Linked DNA regions of Homo sapiens. The protein of the gene in region 3 interacts with the protein of the main gene of each other region in a pairwise test. Each region holds a gene or a part of one and is shown on either strand. Other genes may lie near its edges. The genes, in order: GIGYF1, SLC25A48, CCDC57 and ARID5A.

Evidence for each region.
Region 1: the proteins of CCDC57 (region 3) and GIGYF1 interact in binary tests that used the Homo sapiens proteins (3 or more experiments, as listed by UniProt).
Region 2: the proteins of CCDC57 (region 3) and SLC25A48 interact in binary tests that used the Homo sapiens proteins (3 or more experiments, as listed by UniProt).
Region 4: the proteins of CCDC57 (region 3) and ARID5A interact in binary tests that used the Homo sapiens proteins (3 or more experiments, as listed by UniProt).

What each region holds. Positions count from the first base shown.
Region 1 is NC_000007.14:100,684,238-100,691,270, reverse strand, and holds part of GIGYF1 (GRB10-interacting GYF protein 1), read left to right. Parts: intron 1-1,715; 5' UTR 1,716-2,679; intron 2,680-2,755; 5' UTR 2,756-2,820; intron 2,821-2,963; 5' UTR 2,964-3,032; coding exon 3,033-3,067; intron 3,068-3,160; coding exon 3,161-3,290; intron 3,291-3,387; coding exon 3,388-3,483; intron 3,484-3,654; coding exon 3,655-3,766; intron 3,767-3,864; coding exon 3,865-3,973; intron 3,974-4,224; coding exon 4,225-4,265; intron 4,266-4,451; coding exon 4,452-4,622; intron 4,623-4,837; coding exon 4,838-5,091; intron 5,092-5,191; coding exon 5,192-5,297; intron 5,298-5,789; coding exon 5,790-5,927; intron 5,928-6,124; coding exon 6,125-6,222; intron 6,223-6,376; coding exon 6,377-6,548; intron 6,549-6,654; coding exon 6,655-6,821; intron 6,822-6,930; exon of another isoform or gene 6,931-6,933; coding exon 6,934-7,033. UniProt on the Homo sapiens protein: May act cooperatively with GRB10 to regulate tyrosine kinase receptor signaling. May increase IGF1 receptor phosphorylation under IGF1 stimulation as well as phosphorylation of IRS1 and SHC1.
Region 2 is NC_000005.10:135,865,661-135,872,693, forward strand, and holds part of SLC25A48 (solute carrier family 25 member 48), read left to right. Parts: intron 1-5,800; coding exon 5,801-6,058; intron 6,059-7,033.
Region 3 is NC_000017.11:82,100,955-82,104,860, reverse strand, and holds the end of CCDC57 (coiled-coil domain-containing protein 57), read left to right. Parts: intron 1-2,994; coding exon 2,995-3,179; 3' UTR 3,180-3,391; downstream 3,392-3,906. UniProt on the Homo sapiens protein: Pleiotropic regulator of centriole duplication, mitosis, and ciliogenesis. Critical interface between centrosome and microtubule-mediated cellular processes. Centriole duplication protein required for recruitment of CEP63, CEP152, and PLK4 to the centrosome.
Region 4 is NC_000002.12:96,539,721-96,546,753, reverse strand, and holds part of ARID5A (AT-rich interactive domain-containing protein 5A), read right to left. Parts: exon of another isoform or gene 6,111-7,033; coding exon of another isoform or gene 6,077-6,110; intron 1-6,076. UniProt on the Homo sapiens protein: DNA-binding protein that may regulate transcription and act as a repressor by binding to AT-rich stretches in the promoter region of target genes.

The DNA.
Region 1 (7,033 bases), on a different chromosome or scaffold from region 3:
TTGGCTGTGGGGCTGCCCTGTGCACCCCCTGCCCAGTGGTGACAACCCAGAATGTCTCTAGACTTGGCCAAGAGCCCCCTGAGGAGCAGAGGTGCCCCCAGTCCAGAACCTGTTGGAGGGTGGGAGCCCCATGGTGGCCTGCAGGTGTGCCACTAGTTCCTTTAGTCCAAGGAAGGGGCCAGGCACCATCAGCTTCCGGCACCAGACCCTGCTGTGGGGGTGCCTAGAGAGTTAACCTCACTCTCCTGGTTTCTTCCCAAGAAGGCGGGTGGCATGGGCTTTTTCCTGCTCTGGGCCTGCTCTCTCCCCTGTCTTGGTGTCGCTGTCCTCAGTCTGCATGAACCATTCCCCCTTTGTGTGCCCCTTGCAGCCAAGACACAGCCAGGATGGGTGACTTGAGCCGGAGGCACCTAGGAGAGCTGCCCTTGCTGCGCCTGGCAGGGGGCAGTGTGAGGCCATCGCTTTAAATTTTTTTTTTTTTTTTTTTTTGAGACAGAGTCTTGCTCTGTTGCCCAGGCTGGAGTGCAGGGGCGCAATCTCAGCTCACTGCAACCTCCGCCTCCTGGGTTCAAGCGATTCTCCTGCCTCAGCCTCCCGAGTAGCTGGGATTAGAGGCACCTACCACCAGGACTGGCTAATTTTTGTATTTTTAGTAGAGACAGGGTTTTGCCACGTTGGCCAGGCTGGTCTCAAACTCCTGACCTCAGGTGATCTGGCTGCCTTGGCCTCCCAAAGTGCTGGGATTACAGGCATGAACCACCACGCCTGGCCACTTTTTCTTTTTTAAAAAATGTTTAGAATTGTTTCTGTAGAGTCGTGGTCTTGTTCTGTTACTCAGGCTGGTCTCGGACTCCTCTCTTCAAGCCTCCCACAGTGCTGGGATTATAGGCATAAGCCATTGTGCTGGCCAGGTGGTCCCTTTTCTGTTCTACTCTCTCCCACCCTCATGCCTCCAGGATGAGCTTCTGGCCTTCTAGAAGGAATGAACTGGAGGAGGCCCAAAATGGCCTCTCCTGAGGCTGATTTGAAGGAATGTGGGGTGTTTTTCTTGGAGTGGGGAAAACTTAGGTATGCGGTGGTTATCTCCAGATACCTTTTGTTCCCTAAAGCTTTTTTAAAAAAATGATTATTGTGGTAAAATATACAACAAAATTTGGAGACTTTAACTGTCTCTAATTGTGCCATTCTGTGTTACTAAGTACACTCACATTGGTGTGCGGCCATGACCACCAGCGGCCCCAGGATCCCCTCCTCAGTTGAGGCTCTGGACCCTTCAGCAACAGCTCCCTGTCCCCTCAGCCCCTGGTGGCTGCCCTTCTACCTTCCTCCCTCAATGAGTGACTGCTCTAGAGACCTCATGAAAGAGAAGTAAGGGGTAGCTCTCCTTTTTTGGCTGGTGTGTTTCTCTTAGCGTGATGTCCTCAAGGCTCATCCAGTCCCCAGATTGCTCTAGGTGGCCACCTGCAGTCAGTGACAGGCTGGTGGCTTTTCATGTCATGGAACACACCACCACTGGAGCATCCAGCCGAGGCAGAGGAAGGAGAGGTCCCAGGGGAGGCCAGCCTGGCCTTGGGTTGCCTCTGAGCCCGGTGTTTCCCCCTGGAGTGCCTGGACTCTGAGCAGGCCTCGGCTTGTCATGGGCTGCTGGCTCAGCTGGGGCTGATGGCCTTTCCTCCTCAGCACCCTGGTTGAACCCGCTTCCTCTTCTTTCCCAGACTGTGGCGTCCTGGAGTTGATGGGAGCTGCAGCACCAAGCCGGGCCAGCCTCCCTCCCAGCCAGTGACAACACCGCAGCACCTGGACCCCGCCCACCCGCTTGAGTCCTCTGCCTGGGGCCCCAGGGATGCGCCTCCTCCTGAAAGTCCCCTCCATCCTCCCTTAGAGGAACAGGCTGCCGCCGCGCCCCCATCAGCCTCCATTGCCCTGACCTTATTTCCACCTGATGGTGCCAGAGGCTGCTTCCCAGCTGGTATCCTGAGATCCTCGTTCCCTTGGTGGCTTGGTTGTTTAAGCCTCCATTATTGATTGGGGGCGGTGGTCTGGGTGTGATTCCTGTGGGGGAAACCAGCCCGAGGTGCCTTGGCTCAGGCTTGCCTGCCTGGAGTCCTTGTCGTGTACCCGTCTGTGGCCCTAGAGTCACCTCCTGCTCCTTTTCACTGGGTTTCTCCCCAGACCAAGCCCCTGGATTTGAGCTTCTGAGCAGCCAACTGATTTTTTTCATGAGGGAAAGAATTTTGCTCCTAGATTTATTTCTAATCCTTTTCTCCGTAACTGACCTTTTCTCTGTAAGCTATTTGTGGCTCTAGTGGGTTTTTGTTTGCTTGCTTGTTTTTGTTTTATCTTTGCCCTGAACGTCCATCCTGGCCTCGGCTGCCTCCCTCCCCGAGTTCTTCACTACACCTCCTGTCTCAGCCTCCCAGAGAGGGTGGCGAGGGTGCTGATGCCCAGAGACACCATCCGGCGAATGGACCTCTCCTGTCATGCGGGGCAGGGCAGGGCTGCCGGCAGAGCCATGTCCTGAACCCTCCCTCCTCCCCCCTGCTCTCCTTAAGGGTCTTTCCCAGATGTGAAGGTCCCTCCCAGGCTCTACTGAGGTCAGACCAATTCCCAGTGGCTTGGGTACCCTCGTTCACTCCAGCACCAGCCCCTGCCCTCCTTCTTCCCGGGCCAGGCTGCCAGGTGAGCCCCGGGCCAAGGGTGGTTGCCCTGCTGAGGCCGAAAGGACTCGAGCTTCCCATCTCCTCGCCTCCCCCAGGTCTTTCACCGTCTGGACTCATCTCTGGGTAACTCATGGTGTGAGTGGCCACGTGGCTGGCTCAGGTGAGTCCTTTTAGACCCCAGGTGACCCACCAGCTAGTCCGGGGCCCATTGTTGTGCCCACTAGGATGTCCCCCATGGTGTCCTCCCTGCGCTTTAAAGTTCTCCTTCGTGTGCTGTTCTTCATGGCCCCTGTTCCCCCACAGGTGTTTGGACAGTGAACGCCAGGTCCCCTCCTCCCCACCCCCGGCCTCTCAAACACGCCCAGCCCCACGATGGCAGCAGAGACACTCAACTTTGGGCCTGAGTGGTGAGTCACTTGTGCCTCGGCTGCCGTGGAGATTCGAGAAAGCACAGTCAGGCTGCCCTGACCTCTGTCTTCTTCTCTCTGTGTTGTGTCCAGGCTCAGGGCCCTGTCCGGGGGCGGCAGCGTGGCCTCCCCACCCCCGTCCCCTGCCATGCCCAAATACAAGCTGGCTGACTACCGTTATGGGCGAGAGGAAATGCTGGCTCTCTACGTCAAGGAGAACAAGGTGGGTGCGTGGGCGAGGGGGGTTGGCGGTGGTGGCCTCTGCCTGTGGAGGGGATCTGGCAGCATGTGGTGTCTTGGCTGTCCCAACCCACTGCCAGGTCCCGGAAGAGCTGCAGGACAAGGAGTTCGCCGCGGTGCTGCAGGACGAGCCACTGCAGCCCCTGGCTCTGGAGCCGCTGACTGAGGAGGAACAGGTGGGACCGGGCCAGGAGCTGAGGCTGCGGGAGCCTGGGAGGGGAGGCCATGGGTTGGGTTAGGAGGAGAGGGGCCAGCGCTGAGGAGACAGGCGGGGAGGGTGCTGTGGGGTGGGGGTGGAGGTGGTTGGGTGCCTGGGTCCTCACTCCCGCCCCTGGCTCCCTCCTCAGAGAAACTTCTCCCTGTCAGTGAACAGCGTGGCTGTGCTGAGGCTGATGGGGAAAGGGGCTGGCCCCCCCCTGGCTGGCACCTCCCGAGGCAGGGGCAGCACGCGGAGCCGAGGTAGAGGGGTGATGGCGTGTCCTGGGGACGGGCAGATCTGGGCCCCTGACTTCGAGAACGTGCAGCAGGTTTCATTGTGCGTCTGGCCTCTTCTCTAGGCCGCGGCCGTGGTGACAGCTGCTTTTACCAAAGAAGCATCGAAGAAGGCGATGGGGCCTTTGGACGAAGCCCCCGGGAAATCCAGCGCAGCCAGAGCTGGGATGACAGGTGGGGCGGGGAGGGGGCATGGCGCAGAGCCGGGCAGGCCAGGGAGGGGAGGCCTGGGCCCTGTCGCTAGAGGGTAACAGAGGCCCACCAGATAAGCCCTGTCCGAGATCCCGGTGCTCCTGACCCCTGGTTTCGTTTGTCCCCTTCCTCCCTCCACTGCCTCAGGGCACAGTGGACAAGGCATGGGGCGGTTGCACAGGGTGGCAGGGGAGGCTGTACTGTTTCTGACCCACACGTTTCCCCTGCTGCAGAGGCGAGAGGCGGTTTGAGAAGTCAGCAAGGCGGGATGGAGGTACGAGGCTGCTGAGGGCGGCGGCCGGGGCGGCAGGGAGGACCAAGATGGGTGGCCCAGTCTGGGGGTGCTTATTTCGGAGGTGTTGGGGGCAGGAGGGCCTGGAGCTGGCCCCCCCAACGTTTCTTGAGGGTCCAGGCACCACGCTGCCTTTCTAATAACTGCCCCTGTCTTCCCGTCTCCCAGCACGATGTGGCTTTGAGGAGGGAGGGGCTGGCCCAAGGAAGGAGCACGCCCGCTCAGACAGCGAGAACTGGCGCTCCCTACGGGAGGAACAGGAGGAGGAGGAGGAGGGCAGCTGGAGGCTCGGAGCAGGGCCCCGGCGAGACGGCGACCGCTGGCGCTCCGCCAGCCCTGGTGAGATTGGGGCCTGGTAGCATTGGCGGGGGCAGTGGGGAGCAGGAACTGTAATGAGAGGGTGGGCTCCTGTAGCCACGGGGAGGGAGCAGAGGCTGGCTGGTGTGGGAGTGGCCGGGACAGCAGCCCTGGAGGTGCTCCGTGAGCTGCAGCAGAGGGGGCCGCTGGCTTCGCTTGGGTACCCACTCTTCTTCTCCCTGACTTTTCCTGTGCAGATGGTGGTCCCCGCTCTGCTGGCTGGCGGGAACATGGGGAACGGCGGCGCAAGTTTGAATTTGATTTGCGAGGGGATCGAGGAGGGTGTGGTGAAGAGGAGGGGCGGGGAGGGGGAGGCAGCTCTCACCTGCGGCGGTGCCGAGCGCCTGAAGGCTTTGAGGAGGACAAGGATGGGCTCCCAGAGTGGTGCCTGGACGATGAGGATGAAGAAATGGGCACCTTTGATGCCTCTGGGGCCTTCTTGCCTCTCAAGGTATCTGTGAGGAGGCGAGGGTGGGAACCTGCCCTTCCGGGGTCCTCTTCCTCCCCACCCACCCCAGCTGTTCTCTGCTCCCCACCCCGGCCCCATGCAGAAGGGCCCCAAGGAGCCCATTCCTGAGGAGCAGGAGCTGGACTTCCAAGGGTTGGAGGAGGAGGAGGAACCTTCCGAAGGGCTAGAGGAGGAAGGGCCTGAGGCAGGTGAGCCGCGGGGTGCCCAGCGGGCCTGGGGCTGGGCCGGGCAGGCACTGGTGTTCTTTGCCGGGCTGGGCATTGGCTGCCCACCTACCTGTAGAATCAGGCTACTTAGATCTGGAAGAAGAGTGCTGAGAGGTGGGGAGGAACCAGGGGGTAGCAGAGCCATGTCTTCAAGGCAGTGTACCAGATAGAAATCAGGCGTAATCAAAATGACCTTTGAAAGTCCCTTGAAGAAGCTGTAGAACCTGGAGTGACGTCTGCGGTGTTGTGTGGTGTTGTGCGATGTTGTGATATGTTCCTGCCGCGTCTGGCAGCGTGGAGGCGAGGGTCAGGGCACCGCATTCCCTCTGCCATTAGTTGAGTTGACCCAAGTGAAGTGGTGGACTCGGCCTAAGGGAGTGTGACCCGCGGTTCCAGCCACACTCAAGGGCTTGTGCTAACTCGCGTGGCAGGCCCAGCCCTTGGTTCTGAACTCTGGCCATCTCCCTCTTCTAGGTGGGAAAGAGCTGACCCCACTGCCTCCTCAGGAGGAGAAGTCCAGCTCCCCATCCCCACTGCCCACCCTGGGCCCACTCTGGGGGACAAACGGGGATGGGGACGAAACTGCAGAGAAAGAGCCCCCAGCGGCCGAAGGTAGGAAGGGAGGATGGCCTACCTCCCGGGTGCGCTGGGGCTGTGGGAGAAAGTGCTCCCCACTCGTGGGGGTGGGCACACAGGGCATTCACATTGAGGAGCCATGGCAAGAGCGTGGTGTTCTGGAGTGAGAGTAGGCGAAAGCTATCTTGTCTCCTCCCCGCCCTTCTTTCCACCTCCTATCTCATGCCTTCCAGATGATATTCGGGGGATCCAGCTGAGTCCCGGGGTGGGCTCCTCTGCTGGCCCACCCGGAGATCTGGAGGATGATGAAGGCTTGAAGCACCTGCAGCAGGTGTGGGGGCCTGAGAAAGCGGGAGGGACCCTTCCCACTTCTGACCTGACCTGCTTGGCCCCAGCCCCGGCCCCAGCTCAAGCTCCATCCCCATCCCCATCCTGATGTTGCTGAGATTGGCAGCTGAGCCTTTCTTCTTTTTCTGGGCATCCAGGAGGCGGAGAAGCTGGTGGCCTCCCTGCAGGACAGCTCCTTGGAGGAGGAGCAGTTCACGGCTGCCATGCAGACCCAGGGCCTGCGCCACTCTGCAGCCGCCACTGCCCTCCCGCTCAGCCATGGGGCTGCCCGGAAGTGGTTCTACAAGGACCCACAGGGCGAGATCCAAGGTACCTGTGTGGGATGGGAGGGCTGCTCAAGGCCGTTCTGGTTCAGGGTGTCTCTGGCATACCCTGTGACCCCAGTGGTTCTCCCGCTCCCTCGCTCCCTGTCCAGGCCCCTTCACGACACAGGAGATGGCAGAGTGGTTCCAGGCCGGCTACTTTTCCATGTCACTGCTGGTGAAGCGGGGCTGCGATGAGGGCTTCCAGCCGCTGGGCGAGGTGATCAAGATGTGGGGCCGCGTGCCCTTTGCCCCAGGGCCCTCACCTCCCCCACTGCTGGTGAGCCGCTTCTCCCCTGCATGGAGGGACAGGGTGTGAGGGGTGCCGGCAGGAGTCCAGCAGAGTCCCCTCCTCCCTGCTGGGGGCACTGGCCGAGCTCTCACCTGAGCAGGGAAACATGGACCAGGAGCGGCTGAAGAAGCAACAGGAGCTGGCCGCGGCGGCCTTGTACCAGCAGCTGCAGCACCAGCAGTTTCTCCAGCTGGTCAGCA
Region 2 (7,033 bases), on a different chromosome or scaffold from region 3:
GTCATCAGGAAACTCACCGCCACACTAAGGGCAAAACAACACACTCAGAAAACAGTAGCAACAGAGGCAAGCCATACTAGGGGGCACAGCCTCAGGCATGGGCTGTGGGGACCTTTTTCTAAGAGCGCCTTGTTAATATGGAAAATGTGGTCCAACCCATCGAACAGCAGCTGTACTTTTAAGAGTTCGTGGACTAAGAAAACAAATATGTAAGGAAGCTACTATGGATTACTAATATGTTTAAGTAAAATCTTATTGTGTTACCTGTGATAGTACCCACACATATGAGAAAAATGGGCACATATGTATGTGTGAGACATTGTAGGAATTCTGTCAATGCATAATGCTCATGGATTGTGGGGTGCCTTGAAATGACTCCCACTGGCTGAGCCTTACTGGAATAGAACCCTCGTGAAAACCCACACATCCCTGACTAGTGACCCATAGGGCCTCATTTGTGGATGGCTGATTTGTGAAGGATTTTCTGTAGAAAGTGGCCTCTTGAGAAATTATGCTGTGTTCCCTGTCCCACCACCCACATACCGACATACCCACACAGCAGAGGAGGCTGGGAGCACTTTCCCTTCCAGAGAGTGGCCAGGCCTTTGTGCTCCTGAGGGCCAGCCCTGCTCCCCTCAGTGGCCAGCCATTGTGTTTCTGCTGGCCTTACTGTTTCCAAGGTCATGGCCCATTGAAGACATTGAATAGCATTGACTGAGAAAGGAAAATAAATGGAACATCTTTGTGTTTGTGTCTGAGGAAGGCACAGTGACTTTCTGTGGCTGGGTCCCTGGGTTCTGGAAAAGGGGCAATAGTGGTAGAGCTGGTGTCTCCTGTCTGTGTCCAGCCCAGCTCAGCCCTTCTGAAGTTGGATGTCCCCTAAGAGATGGCTGTATTGGTACCTGTTAGGATTGGCCAAACCTGGACCTACAACCACCACACCCCAAAATAAAACTCCCTGAAGAGGCATCTACCTCTAAGGGACCTCCCAGGCCAAACAGGAGGCCAGCAGTAAGGCACTGGCACTTCACAGAGAGCTGCAGAGCCAGATAGCCATGGCCTGTGGCTTTAGGTGTGCTGGCCGGGACTGAGCTGGACAAGGCAGGAGGCCTGGGCCCTCCTCCACTTCCTACGGCAGTGGGTTGCTATTTTCATTGACTTTGAACATCTTGCTAGTCTTGGTTACATAGGTGCAGGGGGCCTGAGATAGCCCTAACTGAAGTTGGGGAAATGAAGGAAACCACATGCCTCCTGAGTTTTTGAGGTACATAATCTCTATCTATCCTAATAAAAGGTAGTATGCCCTTGATCTAGAGAGGCAGCAGTTTTTGAGGTACGTAATCCATATCTATCCTAATAAAAGGTAGTATGCCCTTGATCTAGAGAGGCAGCAAAAGTTGGTCTCAAATGCAAAGCATTCATGATTTTAAAAAGATCAAAATTTGATTAATGTTTTAATCCTCATTACAGAATAAAAAATTCTAATTAGAGAAATTAGGTACACTTCGCTTGAGAAGGATATATATCTAATGCCAATCCTTTCGCATATGCATGTACACCCTGAAGGTTCAGAAACAATGGGCTGGGAGTTGGCAGTTTCCTGTGAGCTGTGTCCTGATCCGGCACCTCGTAGTCTTCCTCAGGTTCCTTGGACAAAGGACTTGCAAGTCCAGAGATCTCAGTTGTGCATATTTCCAAGACTGACTTACCAGTAACTTTTCAAATCAGCTTTTAAGAGTCATCAAAATTGGGTTTTCACAAACTAAAATTGGTCCCATGGTATCAGAGTACCAAGAACTCCGATCCAGTGTTTTCCTGAGGCTATCTGCTGAGGCTCCTGGCAACCCCCCGGCTCTGCCACCCCCACAAGCCAGAGAGCACTTAGCACCACATGGGCCACTGGCGGAGATTTCTGCTGTTTTCCAGAAGAAGGCTCTTCTGTTTATTCATCAGCAGGGCTATCTTATACTGGTCATAGTTTTCTATGGCTCCTACTCTTGCTGTTGAATTGAAAATCAGTATTACTATAAGTGCATCATCATGTTAGGTTTGTTGGACTTTGGGCCTCACCAATGGTGGTGGTGTGGTGCATTTTTATCTCAGGTATATTTATGCTTGGAATTATAATAACTACCTTTGATGACATTCTGCTCTGTGGACCCAATATGAATCATCCATACCACTATTGGTAGTGCTAGTGCTGATGGACTTGTAAGTTACAACCACTGCCCCAGAGAAAGGTTGCTTCTCAATGAGTGACACCTCATGATATCACAGAGTTGTTTTACCTTGAAAATCAGGAGAGGATAGTTAGGCTGTGGAATCACTGCTCTCCCTAACTGGGCTGTAAACAAAACAGTTTATTTCAAATATGAGAAGTCACTTCCATTGTAGAGTGTGATGACATAGGTGAATGCAATTGTAAAAACTCATCAATCGTGCACTTGAAAGCTTTACCTTTTATTGAATACAAAGTATAGTTCAATTAAAAGACAAACTGACAAAAAACAAAAATAAGAGGCCAGAGGAGGAGAACAGGGGCTTTTGAGAATGAGACTTAAGAATGGGGAGGAGGTCCAGCCAAGAATGCATGACCACAATGTAATAAGGAAATGTCAGACAAACCCCGAATCAGGAAAGCTCTATTAACAAGCAGAGGGGTTGTGTACTCTTAAAAAATGTCAGTGTCACAAGAAACAAAGAAAGGCTATGGAAATGTTCCAGATTGAAGCACTGGATCCTGTCCTGGAGGGGAAAATGCTATAAAGGGCATGCATGAAGATCAAATGACAATTTGATCATAGATGGTAGATTAAAGTATTGTCAAAGTAGCTATATGAAACTGGTAATTGTGCTATAGTTATATAAGACAATATCTCCATTCTTAGGAAATATTTTTCAACATATTTAGGGGTAAAGACTCTTCAAGTATGTAACTCACCCAGAAATAGTTTAGAAAATGAAGTTATGTATGAATGTGTAAAAATACATCTATGTGTATACACACACACACACATACACACACACACACACACACACACATTCCCTATTGCTTACCTTGGGAAGAAAAGAAGAAAAAGGATAAGTTTGGGTCTTGTTGCCAAAGTCAGTTCAAGGTTTGACAGGTGTTTTTGCAACATCTGCACCTCCAAGCAGACACAATGTTACCAGAATCCCCTCTTTCAATCAATAACTCCTGAAAGCCACATCATACCCATAGCTGATTCATGAAAACCTTGACTCCTGGTCAGGTCACTCTTACCTGGAAATGAATGGGGCTTAGGCAAAGTTTAGACACTGGGACAATTATATCGATTCAGTTGAATTGAACACACACGAGTGAGAAGGGAGGGAAGTGAAGAGAGTGGGAGAGAGAACCCACAAACAATAAGCAAATGAGCTTATTTGCTTATTGTTAGCAATAGATAAATCTGGGTAAATTGTATGTATGGGCATTCTTTATACTATTTTGCTTTTTATACTTCTTTTGCAAATTTAGAATTATTTCCAAATAAAAAGTTTTTTCAAAAAAAAATATTGTGAATGAAGGAGCTAGAAAGAATTCCAAGAGCTTCACAGTATAAACTTGGGTCAGTTTGGAGCTGTGTCAGTATCCTGGTGATGGGAGTCACCATGATAATTATACTGCACTAACAGCCATAAATGGGTAATTCCAAAGCAATAAAAGCTAGATTGGTTATGTGGCAAACCTGGGAGAATGAGAGAGAATTTCCTTATTGCTTACTCCGCAGGGAAAAGGAAAACAGTACAGGATTTTTGTTGACAAGGCCAGTTGGAGGTTTGGTGGGTGTTTTCCCATCTGTACTTTCAAACAAGCAGAATGTTATCAAGATCCTCTCCCTCAGTCAGTAACTCCTGAAAGCCACTATTTACCCATAGTTGCTTCATGAAAACCTTGACTCCTGGGTCAAGTCAGTTTTGCCTGGAGATGAAAGCAGTTCAGGCAAAATTTATACATTGGGACAATGACATCTATTCTGTCTAACGGCAGAATTTCTCCAGATGAACCAGGCAGTAGCACCATGGGTCTGGAAGAGGAAGGGGTGCCTAGTGATCTCTCAGTGGGCTTTCAAAGGCCATCATGTCTGATCTTGCTCAGAGGGGTCTTGTGCCCCCAAAGGTGGCTACTACCCCGGCTCACCTCCTATGGGATCCACTGTGGAAGAAGTTGGCTCCATCTCCTGTCCACACTGAAGTTGGCCTAATGGATATGGCAGGGGTTTACTCCCTTCCCCACTGGAAGATGGAAAATACAGCATGGGTTTGTTCAAGCATACTTCCCAGGCACGCAGAAACCACCCCCTCAACCTCACCTGCTTCTGGGATGAGTTAAAGTACAGATTACACTTTATTCTCCAATCTCTAGACTGTGGAGTCATGAAGCCGAATGCTTCTAACCTTTCCTCTGATAAAGATGGACTGTTTGGGGGACTTGGACATTGACCTATATGATGAAAGCTGTCTGCCTGTTTACCAGCATGTGTAAAATCAGATTGGAACACTGTACAGAGAATTAAACTCAGGTGGCAAAATAGGCTTGTGGTCGCAGACACACTTTATTCTATTTCTTTCCTGGTCATGTCACATTATGTTATTTCCTGGAGAAGGGAAAGTCAAGAACAAGAGCCTACTTTATCTGCACTGGGTCTGGAAGTTCTGTCTGGTCATGAGTCAAAGCCTCATAGTAGAGAAGGATCCATAGCAGAGAAGGGTCCGTAGCAGAGAAGACAAGCATCAGAGTGGGAGATGGGTAGCAAATGAGAGAGAGGCAGAGTCTCAGCTGGCTATGTGCACCCCTAGAAGAAGCTGGAGACAAACAACCCCTGAGCTGCCAGCATAGACTACTGAGGTTAGACAAGAAGATAGCAGCCCTGGGTCCCAGGACTTTGAGGGGCCAAGAGCCCCAGTGCTGCCCTACAACTGTTTAGGGCACAGCCTGGCCAGGGCTGGAGTGAGTCACTGAGAATATACCCAGCTCTCCAACCTGTGGGTCCTGCCACCAATTCATGTCAGCAACCTTGGTCTCAGTTGATAACGTTTTAAGCCCCTACAATGTTCAAATCACCATGCTGAACACTGTACATGTATTACCTTATTTGCACTCATGACAAGCTCCCCCTCTTTTAACATAAGGAAATGGGCTGAAAATGCTGCCTTGCCAAGGTAAATTTCGAATTATTTCCAAATAATTTTAATAAAATTATTTATTTTATTTTTATAAAATTATAAATATTAAATTATAGATTTTAAATTTTATGTATAATTTATAAATTATTTTCAATAAGCGGTAGAGCTAGGATTTGCAGCCAGGACAGTCTGGCTCCAAATCTCATATACATTTTGCTCCGCCACACTGTGCATAAATAAATGTGTACACAGACACACACACACACACACACACACACACACACACACACACACACACACACAGCATGTTGGATTTTCTAGCTTCAAAGAAGAGCTTAGTGTGGCTTGTCATAATTGATTCTAGACATTCTGAAGTCACATTTGCTTCGAAAGAAGTAGTGGTATTGACCTAAAGTAACTGGTGTTCTATCACGTGGCTGAGATCGTCCCCAGTCTGGCTGTGTATATTGGCAGGGGCTCTTGTTGGGACCTCAGTATCCTGGTTTGAGCTGCCAAGAAGGTCAGATTTGGTAAAAGCTGATGGGCTACATGAGAGGGAACTGTCAAAGGGCTGGGCTGGCTCCAGTGTCACGGAATGTCCAGTCTCTTACACCCTGGGTCACTTGCCACCTTCTCTCCCCTGTCTTTGCAGCCAACCTCGGTTTGAAGTCCAGGGCAGTGGCTCCTGCGGAGCAGCCAGCATACCAGGGGCCAGTGCACTGCATTACAACCATTGTGAGGAATGAGGGCCTGGCGGGGCTATACCGGGGGGCCAGTGCCATGCTGCTGAGGGATGTCCCAGGCTATTGCCTCTACTTCATCCCCTACGTGTTCCTGAGTGAGTGGATCACACCTGAGGCCTGCACAGGCCCCAGCCCCTGTGCCGTGTGGCTGGCGGGCGGCATGGCAGGTAAGGGCAGCAGCAGCTGGAGCCGCACCCCTGTGCAGGCCACAGCAGTGGGACAGCTGGGGAACTGCCATGCCCTTCTCAGCCCAGGGGGAGGGCAGGACACATTTAGGTACTCACCCAACAATTCTTTGTTAGGTACCTACTCTGTCCCCGGCCCTCTCCCACCTCAGTCTCATCCCTTCCCTATGCAGCTATGAGAATGGCAGTTCCCATTTGACTTTCAGGCAACAGATATATTTTGAACACATACTCTGTGTCAGGCATTACTAAGCTTTGGAAAGGAAATCCATTATCATGGTTCAGTTTATTAAATGCAATCTTTGTAATGTAAGGATGCCATTAGTTCTACAAGGTAGGAATCGGTTTCCCCATTTCACAGATGAGAAAACTCAGGTCCAGAAATGTTAAGTAGCCAATCCCAGGTCATACAGCTGGAGCTGACAGTATAGCAGGACTCTGCAGTCAGAAAGATTTAAGTTCAAATCCACACTTCATCATTTTGTGACCATGGACTTGTTGCTTAACCTCCCTGCTCAGAATCCTGCACCACATCCTTCTTTCATTTAAGGTAAAAGTTGATATCTTTGCAATGGTTTTCCAGGCCCTCAGTGATCTAGCTCCCTGTTCCCCACCCACCTCACTTCTACTCCTCTCCCCTTCCTCACTTTCTCCAGTCACACTGGTCTCTGCTGCAACTTGACCATGCCTGGCCCTTCCCTGACCACAGGGCCTTTGTACCTGCTACTCACCACCTCCTGAATTTAACAACGTGGAGACCACTGGGGATTTTGGCAAGGGCCATTTGATGGAGAGAAGGGTGTAAAAACCTGATGAAGTGGGATAAAGAAAGAATGGGATGAAGGATATTGGTGCACCCAAGTATACACAACTCTTCTGAGGGTTCTGCTATGCTGTAATGAGGAACAGAGAAACAGAGCCATAGCCAGAAGGGCCTTTGGAAGCCAAGAGAGGATA
Region 3 (3,906 bases):
TTCCACCAGCTTCAAACCTCCAAGCCGGGCTTGGTGGCCCACACCTGTAATCCCAGCACTTTGGGAGGCCGAGGTGGGTGGATCACGAGGTCAGGAGATCGAGACCATCCTGGTTAACATGGTGAAACCCCGTCTCTATTAAAAATACAAAAAACTTAGCGGGGCGTGGTGGCGGGCGCCTGTAGTCCCATCTACTCGGGAGGCTGAGGCAGGAGAATGGCGTGAACCCGGGAGGCGGAGCTTGCAGTGAGCTGAGATCACGCCACTGCACTCCAGCCTGGGCGACAGAGTGAGACTCCGTCTCAAAAATAAAAATAAAAATTTAAAAAACCCTCCAAGTATGGTGCAGCCGCCTGAGGGGACGGAGCCCAGCCTGGGTGGCCCTGCCTCAGCACACACCAGGACCTGGGAGGGGTTAAGCCTGGGAGGGGCAAGCAGGCCCCAGTCCCCCTCCCCTGGTTAATCACTGCAAGGCCTTGGATGTTTCAGGAACTTTCCAGAAGCTCAGTTCGGGGCCAGAGCACAAGCAGCCCGTGGGGGAGGGGTGCAGGACCCAAGAGGCGCGTTCCTCACGCTGTGCCCGGCAAACTGTGTGTCCACATGGTTTCCCTGCGGCCCAGTCAGCCCAACGCAGAAAGAGAAATCCCGGCCAGGCTCGGCAAAACAGGTCAGGCGAGAAGGCGGGGCAGAGAGTGGTGGAGGCCAAGAGCGTTTTTACACACCAGTTACTGGGTTGACCTCAGATTAGCATCAGGTAGAAGAATCCGGGGTCACAGGGAGTCACGCCTGGGGCAGCCGCCTTGACACATCCAGCTCCGTGCCTCTGACCTAGGACTGGCTGGGCTGGGGCTGTCCGCTGCCCTGGGGTCCTGGGCTCATGGCCAGTTCCCTGCCACCATCACTGAGGAGGGCTCCGCAGGAAAAGGACCAGTGAAGAAACCAGAGCCTGTAAAGTGGATATTCTGAGCTAGGGGCCGGCCTGCCCTGGGGAGGGGGCCAGCTCACCCTCCCTGCCCCTCCCTGCCCCTCCCTGCCCCGGGGACTGTGACCCACTCACACCTCCCTGCTTCGCCCCGGGATACAGCCAGGGTCCTCCCAGCAGGGCCAGCTCAGGCCTCCCAGGCAAAGGGGCAGGCCCTTCACCCCCCTCCCTCAGCTCACTTTTTCTGAAAATCCCCACAGGCTTTGTCTGAGGAGGATCAAGCCGGGCAAAGCCCCCAGAATCCCTGAGCATTACAGAGGGACAACCAAGGCCTCTGGGTTTGAGGAGATGCCTCAGGGTCACAGTGGAGCACTAGGGCCTGGTCAGAGGACCAGCTTCCCCGCAGGAAGCCCTTTCCACGGGATACCCCACCCTCTGCCAGCCAGTGTGGGGGGTGGGGGGAGGGAGTGGGGATGGGGGCGTTGGCCGGGACCAGGAGGTCAGGCAGGCTTATTGTTGAGAGATAAAGGGTGGTAGCCTTTGTGTGAAGAGGAGGAATTCCTCTGGGGGTTGGAAACAAAGGGAGCAGGCAGCGTCCAGGGCCCCCCAGGACCCCAGCAGGGGGCCAGGGACTGTGTGACCCCAACGGGGCTGCAGGAAAAGGAAGACTGGTTCCGGGTGTCTTGAGACCCCAAGAGTGGATCGGAGTGGAAGAAGCTGAGATGGGAAGAGGGGCCCAGGGCCAGGGCTGGGAGTGTGTGGCTGCCCCCATGGGCACTGCGCAGCCCAGCTGAGAGTGCGTCATTGCCGGTGTCCCCAAAGCACAGACGCTTCCCAGTCACCCAGGCTGCACGCAGACCACACAGGCTGGGCTCCAGCAGGAGGCGTTGGCCGCCCGCTGACCTGCCTGGGTCAGCCTGTCCAGACTGCCCACTGGGCCACATTCAGCCACGTGCTGGAGTCCTCTAGACCTCACCCCAGCCACAGTGTGGCCACGCAGTGGACGCTGAGCTCACATCTTACTGTGGGGTTTTTTTTGTTTTTTTTTTTTTTGAGATAGAGTTTGCCCTTGTCCGCCCAGGCTGGAGTGCAGTGGCGCAATCTCGGCTCACTGCAACCTCTGCCTCCCGGGTTCAAGCGACTCCGCTGCCTCAGCCTCCTAAGTAGCTGGGATTACAGGTGCCCGCCACCGTGCCCGGCTAATTTTTTGTATTTTTAGTAGAGACGGCGTTTCACCATTGTTGGCCAGGCTAGTCTTGAACTCCTGACATGAGGTGATCCACCCACCTCGGCCTCCCAAAGTGCTGGGATTACAGACGTGAGCCACCAAGCCCAGCCCTTGCATGGATTTTTAGTAACATTTTGCTGTTGTTTTACCAAAAAAAACCCCCACATTCTTAATTGAAAAAATGAAAAATAGAGAAAAACTGGCCAGATAAAGAAGATCACCTACAACACCCCTCTGCGAAGATGGTTTTAGCCGATGTTTAGGAAGGGCTATCTGGCATTTAGGCCCCAGCCTCTGTGTGTAGCGCACTCCTGGGCCCTTGGCCTGTGCCTGGCCACGTGGTGCCCACCAGCACGGCCTTTCCTTTGGCCTCAAAAGCCTGGCACTGCTGGCCCATCGGGGAGGCGGGGGCAGGCAATGTGTCTCAGATGGTAGGGACACCCGGGGCAGCCTGGGGGGAGGAGCTTTGAGTCAACCATTTACCCCAGCACCCCTGCCCCCTCCTGGGACCCATTACCACACAGCACCCCTGCCCCCTCCTGGGACCCATTACGAAATGGTCACAACAGGACCATTTTCAGAGCCACATGTCCAGGTGCCCAGTGGAGGGGCAGGCCCAGTCCCTGCCAAGCAGGACCCACTGAGCAAGGCGAGGCCACAGCTCTCTGGTCACTCCAGGATCCTTTGGCCTTCACGGACTCCTGGAGGAAAGCCAGGCCAAGGGTCACAGGGCCCCCGCTGGCCGGGAACACGGAAGTGCTGCACCTGTGCAGTGCCTGTGAGCACAGCCTCCTGCTCCCCCTGCCATCCTGATGCATGCTGTTTTTTCCTCTTTACCTGACAGAGCTCCCAGCTCCTCCAGCAGCCGACAGGAGGCCCGTCAAGATGCAGGCAGGCATTGCCACCCCAGGGATGAAGACAGCAGCCCAGGCAAAGGCCAAGACCACAGGAGCCTCCCGGTCTCATCCTGCAAAAGCTAAAGGCTGCCAGAGGCCCCCCAAGATCCGTAACTACAACATTATGGACTGACTTCCTCCCCCCACCCCGCCCCACTAAGGGGTGCTCGGGGCCTCCGCATGGTGCCTGTGCTTTCACCTACGTGTTGTGGGGGGGTGTGGGCACAGCGTGCAGGGTGGAGGCAGGGAGCTGCAGGGCAGGCTCCCAAATGCTGCTGAGGCGACCCTGCTGACTGAAGGCCTCCCTGAGCACAGGGCCCATTAAAACCAGGTTCCTCCCTGGGGCGTCTGCTTGGCCTTAGCGTTGTTTATCTGTCCTACTTGGGAAATGCAGTATCAAGTGCCTGTGCCAGAGCCTGGCCTGCCCGTGTCACCACCCACAGCCATCTGCACACCAGTGGTGTTGGGGACAGTGTGGCCTTCCTCAGAGCCTGGTAGCAGGTAGGGGGCAGATCAGAAAGCCCACCCACAAAGCAGGCGTCTCCTGAGAGTACCATGGGAGGGGCCCTCCCAGAAGGAGTGAGAGCCTTGGATCCCAGTGAACCGGGCCAAGGTGACCCCTGGAAGCCAGGTGGGCACCTGGGCCTCATGCAGGTTGGGGTGTGCATGTCAGGTGCTGGCAGGGTGGGGGCCAACCGGGGACAGCGGTCACTGCTGGGCCTTCCACGTCCACCCCCACGAAGGATAACAGCAAAATGTCCCTGCCACCTGAGTGCCCGGGGCCAGGTACCTGCAAGGATGAGAAACGCACACGTAAACTGACGCCCGTCCGCCCGGAACACACTGCACTACCCCGCCAA
Region 4 (7,033 bases), on a different chromosome or scaffold from region 3:
CTAACTGCCCTAATAAGGCCACATGCTCTCCTCACCTACAAGGGTCCTGGTGACCCCTCAGGTCTCTGCTGACAAGTGCCTTCCTCTGGGTGGCCTCCTCTGGCCCCTGGCCACGGGCAGCTCCTCCCTCGCCCTAGGCTACTCACAGCCATCCTGGCTGAACTGCCTGTGGCTCCTGGGGCTCCCTGATAGTTCGGTGAGGCTTCCCATACCCCACACAGCAGGTGCCAAGCTGGAATGAGCAAGGCTCACAACAACCCTGCGTGGTGGGCAGGAGAAGCCATGGGCTGTATTTTACTAAGAACCACCATGTGCTGATGGTTGCAAAAACGCAACACCTCTGCCACTGCAAAAACCACAACCACTGGAAACTGCCTGAGGCCACACAGCAGGCTGGCAGCAGATACCAGACCAGGAACCCACATCTTCTGACAACCTTTTCTTTCTGTCCTTTGTTCTTTTGTTAATCAAGTATGAATTGGTTCACTCCCTCCCAGGACATCCTTATTGTTAGGAACCTATGAGATTTCCCTTCCATCCCAGACAGAAAAAGAATCTCCTCAGGAACAAGAAACCCAAACCAGCGTAAGCCAGGGGCCAGTGGTACTCAGAGGCACAGGGTAGAATCCTTGGCCACTGAGTGGTCCTGCTTTGGTAGGTGTTCTTATGTCTTCCCTCCATGTTGATGGCTGCTGACTGATTTCAGGGTGGTGGTTTCTTGGGCTGGGGTGACTGTGGCAATTTCTTAAAATAAGACAACAATGAAGTTTGCCACATCCATTAACTCTTTTTTTTTTTTTGAGTCAGAATCTTGCTCTGTTGCCCAGGCTGGAGTGCAGTGGCGTGATCTTGGCTCACTGCAATCTTCGCCTCCCAGGTTCAAGTGATTCTCCTGCCTCAGCCTCCCGAGTAGCTGGGACTACAGGTGCGTGCCACTAAGCCCGGCTAATTTTTGTATTTTTAGTAGAGACGGGGTTTCACCATATTGGCCAGACTGGTCTCAAACTCCTGACCTCATGATCCACCCACCTCGGCCTCCCAAAGTGCTGGGATTACAGGCATGAGCCACTGCACCTGGCAACTCTTCCTTTCATGAAAGACTTCTCCATGGCATGCATGTGATGCTATTTTTGACAGCATTTTATCCACAGCAAAACTTTCAAAACTGATGTCCCTCCTCTCAAACCCTGCTGCTGCTTTATCAACTAAGTTTCTGTAACATTCTAAATCCTTTGTTGTCATTTTGACAATGTTCACAGCATCTTCGCCAGTAGATTCCACCTCAAGAAGCCACTTTAGGATGGGCGCGGTGGCTCACGCCTGTAATCCCAGCACTTTGGGGGCCAAGGTGGGTGGATCACCTGAGGTCAGAAGTTTGAGACCAGCCTGGCCAACGTGGCGAAACCCTGTCTCTACTAAAAACACAAAAGTCAGCTGGGTGTGGTGGCAGGTCCCAGTAGTCCCAGCAACTCAGGAGGCTGAGGCAGGAGAATCCTTTGAACCTAGGAGGCGGAGGCTGCAGTGAGCTGAGATTACTCCACTGTACTCCAGTCTGGGCGATGGAACAAGACTCTGTCTCAAAAAAAAAAAAAAAAAAGAAAAAGAAAAAGAAAAGAAAAGGAAAGAAAAAAAAAGAAGAAAAAAAGTCACTTTCTTTGCCCACCCATAAAAAGCAACTCCTCATCCACTCAAGTTTGATCATGAGATTGCAGCAATTCAGTCTCATCCTCAAGCTCTGCTTTCTAACTCTAGTTCTCTTGCTGGTTCCACTGCATCTGCAGTGTCTTCTCCACTGAAGTCTTGAAGCCCTCAAAGTCATCCAGGAAGGTTGGAATCAAATTCTCCCAAATGCTTGGATATTTTGACCTCCTCCCACGAACCACAAATGTACCTGAAATGCTCTCCGGAGGTTTTCAATGTATTTTGCCCATCAGAGGAATCACTATCTATGGCAGCTACAGTCTTACAAAATGTATTTCTTAAATAATAAGACTTGAAACTTAAAATTACTCCTTGATCCTTGGCTCTAGAATAAATGTTGTGCTAGTAGGCATGAAAACAACATGCAGCTCCTGGTACATTTTCATCAGCGCTCTTGCATGACCGGTTGCCTTGTCAATGAACAATAATATTTTGAAAGGAATCCTTTTTTCTGAGCAGTAGGTCTCAACAGTTGGCTTAAAATACTCAGTAAACCATGTTATAAACAGATGTGCTGTCATCCAGGCTTTGTTATTTCATTTTTAGAACACAGAGTGAGTAGATTTAGCATAATTCTTAAAGGTTCTAGGTTTTTTGGAATGATAAATGAGCACAGGCTTCAACTTAAAGTCACCAGTACCAGCTGCATTAGCCCCTAACAAGAGAGTCAGCCTGTCTTTTGAAGCCATGCATTGACTTCTCCTTAGCTATGAAAGTCCTAGATGACATCTTCTTCTGATACAAAGCTGTTTCATCTACATGGAAAATCTGTGGTAGTGTGGCCACCTTCATCAGTGATCTTAGCTGGATCTTCTGGATAAATTGCTGCAGCTTCTACACCAGCCCTGGTTGATTCGCCTTGCACTTTTATGTGATGGTGATGGCGTCTTTCCTTAAACCTCATGAAGCAACCTCTGCTAGCTTCCAACTTTTCTTCTGCAGCTTCCTCACCTCTCTCAGCCTTCACAGCATTGGAGATTTAGAGCCTTGGTCTGGATTAGGCTTTGTCTTAAGGGAATGTTATGGCTTGTTGGATCTTCTATCCAGACTTCTCAAACTTTCTCCATTATCAGCAATAAGGCTGTTTTGCTTTACCATGCGTGTTCACTGGAATAGCACTTCTGATTTCCTTCAATAACTTTTCCTTGGCATTCACAACTTGACAAACTGGTGCAAGAGGCCTAGCTTTCGGCCTATCTGGGCTTTCGACCTGCCTTCCTCACTAAGTTTAATTATTTCTAGTTTTTTTATTTAAAAGTAAAGACCTGTAACTCCTCCTTTCACTTGAACACTTAAAGACCATTGTAGGACTGTTAATTGGCCCAGTTTCAATATTGTTGTGCCTTAGGCAACAGGGAGGCCAAAGAAGAGAAAGAGAGGAAGAGAGATGGGGAATGCTGGTCGATGGAGCAGGTGGAGGAGGAGCACACACAACATTTATCGATTTAGTTCACTGTCTTTGTGGGTGGGGTTCATGGTACCCCAAAACAATGACAATAGGAACATCAAAGATCACTGATCACAGATCACCATAACAGATATAATAATGAAAAAGTTTGAAATGTTGTAAGAATCACCAAAATGTGACACCGAGACACAAAGTGAGCACGTGCTGTTAAAAAATGGCATCGATAGACTTGCTCGATGCTGGGTTGCCACAAACCTTCAATGAGTAAAAAATGCTGTATTTGTGAAGTACAATAAAGCAAAGCATGATAGAGCAAGGTGTGCCTGTACATTCTCTCCCTCAGTCCCGGAGGAATTCCATTTTAAAGAGGGGGAATCTGAAGCCAGAATGGTTATGGGTAAGTTGCTTGCCTCCCTGGGGGACCAGGATTCAAAACAAAGTCTGATTCTGGTCCAGTGGCTGCTGTGGTTATCAACATTTGCAAGGCCTTCATGAAGAGTCCAAGTAAGCCTGGAGAGAAACCAGTCCTAAGGCTTGTCAAAGAGAAAGAGACCAGGGCCACCCTCTTGGGCTAGCCTCTGACCCACCAGTCTCCAGAAATCCTGGGTACTAACAAGTGACCCAGCAGACTGATGCCTTTCCAACCAAGTCCTCTGTGACTCTGTGCTTCAGTCTTCCCTGCTATGAAATGGGAGAGGAAGATCCTTGAGTTCTTTGCTAGCTATCCGTGAATTCCTGAAGTCTTCCAGGTCCAGAAGCACCTCCTCCACTGGCTCTTCTCCCACTGCCTGCTACCCTCAGCTCACACATCCCCTCCCCTCATTCCTGCTGCCCCAGAGCCTCAGCATCGACAGACCCTCTCCATGTCTTCCTTGGTGTGACTGGGGCTTCTTAAGTCACAGACTTGCTATGTGACCCTTGGCAAGTCGCTGCACCTTGGGCTTCAGAAAAATACAGTGGTTAGACAGGGCCCATCAGAATCACCTGGAGGAGCATAATGCTCCGGCCCCATCCTCAGAGTCTGATTTAAGGTCCAAGGTGGGGCAGCAGGGTTTAAAGCTCCCCAGGGCATCCCAGTGGGCAGCCAGGTTGTGAGCCACAGGGCGAGAGGGGCCCTAGTCCCTTCTGCATGGTTCAGAGTTTGCAAGCTCTGCCTGGACCACACCAGGGGAAAATCTCCTGGAGTTGGGTGCTCGTGTTACCTGGAAAGGAGGTCACCAATCCGAGCTGTTTAACCCCAGATGGGAAAGGGATTAGAGCTGTTCGCCTTAAGCCACAAAGGGAAACATTCTATCTCTGTGTCCAGCTGAGTCCCCAGATGAACTCGGTCTCCATTCTCAGGGTTAGTGCTCTGTCCTGCCAGGGCCCTCTGGGTTGCAGGCCTTTGGGCCCCCTCTTCTGCAGCATTAGATGAGCAAGAAGGGAGAGTCCTCTCCCCCTTGGTCTCCAGGGTGCCCTCTGTCTTGTCCCTGGCTGCCCTAATCCCTCCCTTTCCCTGATCATTCACAGATCAGGGTTATATTTGTAAAAGGGGTTCTGCTATAAAAAATAAGCTTGAAACCCGCTGCCATAGATGTTGGGCCATGCAGGTCCAGCGTTGGGAGGTAGAGAGCTGGGAGCCAGGCAGGCAGGACCTGCATGGTGGGGTGGGCCCTCTCCTGGCTCTGTGGAGGAGGGAAAAGGCTTATGGAGCTGGAGGCCCCGTCTCCCAGCCCCACTCAGCCCACAGAGGCAGGAGAAACCCACTTGCCCCTGATAGCTGCTGCTGCTGCTGTGAGCCACCGCACTACTGCCTTGTTCCCAGCCTGTGTGTGCAGATTCTTTTCTGGCACAATGCCTTACATGTTTTATTTGTAACAGAAGTGGGGGATCAAATGCAAAAAAGAAAACTGCTCTCCATAAGAATGTCATCCAGACTTCACCTTTCTCCATCCAGCAAGCAATAATGATGATGATGGTGATTATTGTCTCATTACTCACTTGTAACACATCTGGAATCTATTCCAGTATACAGGATGAAATAGGGATCCTAGCCATACTTTCCCCTCATTGGTTGGGGGCCCCAGTGAGTAGCCTCCTCCTCCAATGGTGTAAAATGCTACTTTCCCCATAATGTCAGTGCTTATAAGGAACACATCTGGGACTATTTCTGGACTTTCTATTCTGTCTCATCCACAGTGGGATGCTAGGACCTGTGCACACTGTTTTAATTTTTGTAGCTTTATAAAACAACTTACTATCCAGAGGGCAAGTTGCCCAATATTACTCATCTTTTAAAAATATTCCATTTGAACTTTGGGATAATTCTGTTACATTCCCTTTAAAAAAAAACAAAAACAAAAACACTTTGGGAGGCCGAGGCGGGCAGATCATGAGGTCAAGAGATCGAGACCATCCTGGCCAACATGGTGAAACCTCGTCTCTACTAAAAATACAAAAATTAGCTGGGGGTGGTGGCGCATGCCTGTAGTCCCAGCTACTCAGGAGGCTGAGGCAGGAGAATCGCTTGAACCCAGGAGGTGGAGGTTGCAGTGAGCTGAGCTCGCGCCACTGCATTCCAGCCTGGCGACAGAGCGAGATTCCTTCTCAAAAAAAAAAAAGGCCAGGTGCGGTGGCTCACGCCTGTAATCCTGGCACTTTGGGAGGCCAAGGCAGGCAGATCACTTGAGGTAAGGAGCTCGAGACCAGCCTGGCCAACATGGTGAAACCCCATCTCCACTACAAATACAAAAATTAGTGGGCGTGGTGGCACACGCCAATAATCCCAGCTACTCGGGAGGCTGAGGCAGGAGAATTGCTTGAACCCAGGAGGTGGAGGTTGCAGTGAGCTGAGATTAGGCCACTGCACTCCAGCCTGGGTGACAGAGACTCCGTCTCCAAAACAAACAAACAAACAAACAAAAAACCCCCACTACTGGGGCTTTGATTGCATTTAAATTTAGAAACTACTTTGAGGAGAAATAATACCTTTACAGTATTGCATCTTTCTTTTCAGGACCATGTGTCTCCATAATTCAGGTTTCCCTCTGCAGTCCTCAGAAGTTCCTTCTTAAAAAGCCCCTGTGCTTTCTTGGGGAGGTTTATTCCTAGTTTGTTCCTTGAGTTTTGTGCAGCTAGAAAATGGTGTTAGAAAAACCCTGATAACAGTAGTTCACTCCACAAAAGCCCCCCTGCGATTTCCTCATTTCACTGCTGGGAAGAGGGCCGAGGCAGGCTAGGTGGCTGCGCCAGAAGATGAGCCTGGGCTCCTAGTGACCCAGTCCCTTACTAAGCAGAGAGGGGGTGCGGCAGGGTGCTGGGCAGGAGGATTGCCTGAGGCTCTTCCTGTGCTATGAGTCTGATTTCTTTCCAACTCCATAGCTCCTGTCTGAGTCAAGCTCAACTCCCAGATCCTAAAACTCCAGCACTGAAGATGTTAGTCTGTCACTGCCTCCAGTAGAGGATGCTCCCATAGGTCTACTTGTTCTCAAGTTACATGCTCCACCGACTCAAATCAGTGCCCTGGCTGGTGTGGGCTAGGCATCTCATACAACATTGCATTGCTGAATCTTCCCAGCCATCCAGATATAACAGATATAATGTCTGAGGCTCAGAGAGGTTCAGTAACTTGCCTGGGGCCACAGAGCTTATCCATGGCAGAGCTGGGATTCAGAACCAGGGTAGTCTGACTCCTGAGAGACGCTGATCCCTGAGAGCTAGAGATTTTTTTCTTTCTAATGGGAGCAGGGAGACCTCAAGTTCCTTATCTGTGCTCAGAGGATGCAAACTTGTCCCCTTTCCCCAAGTAGATGTGCAGTTTCCCAGCACATCGCTCCTGTCACTCTGCTAACAAGAGCAGGTCTGTGTTGACTGCTAAGGCATCCAGGCTCAGGGATGGGAGGGGGCTGGTCAGAGAGCTGGGCAGCAGCGGGGAGAGGGGGAGGG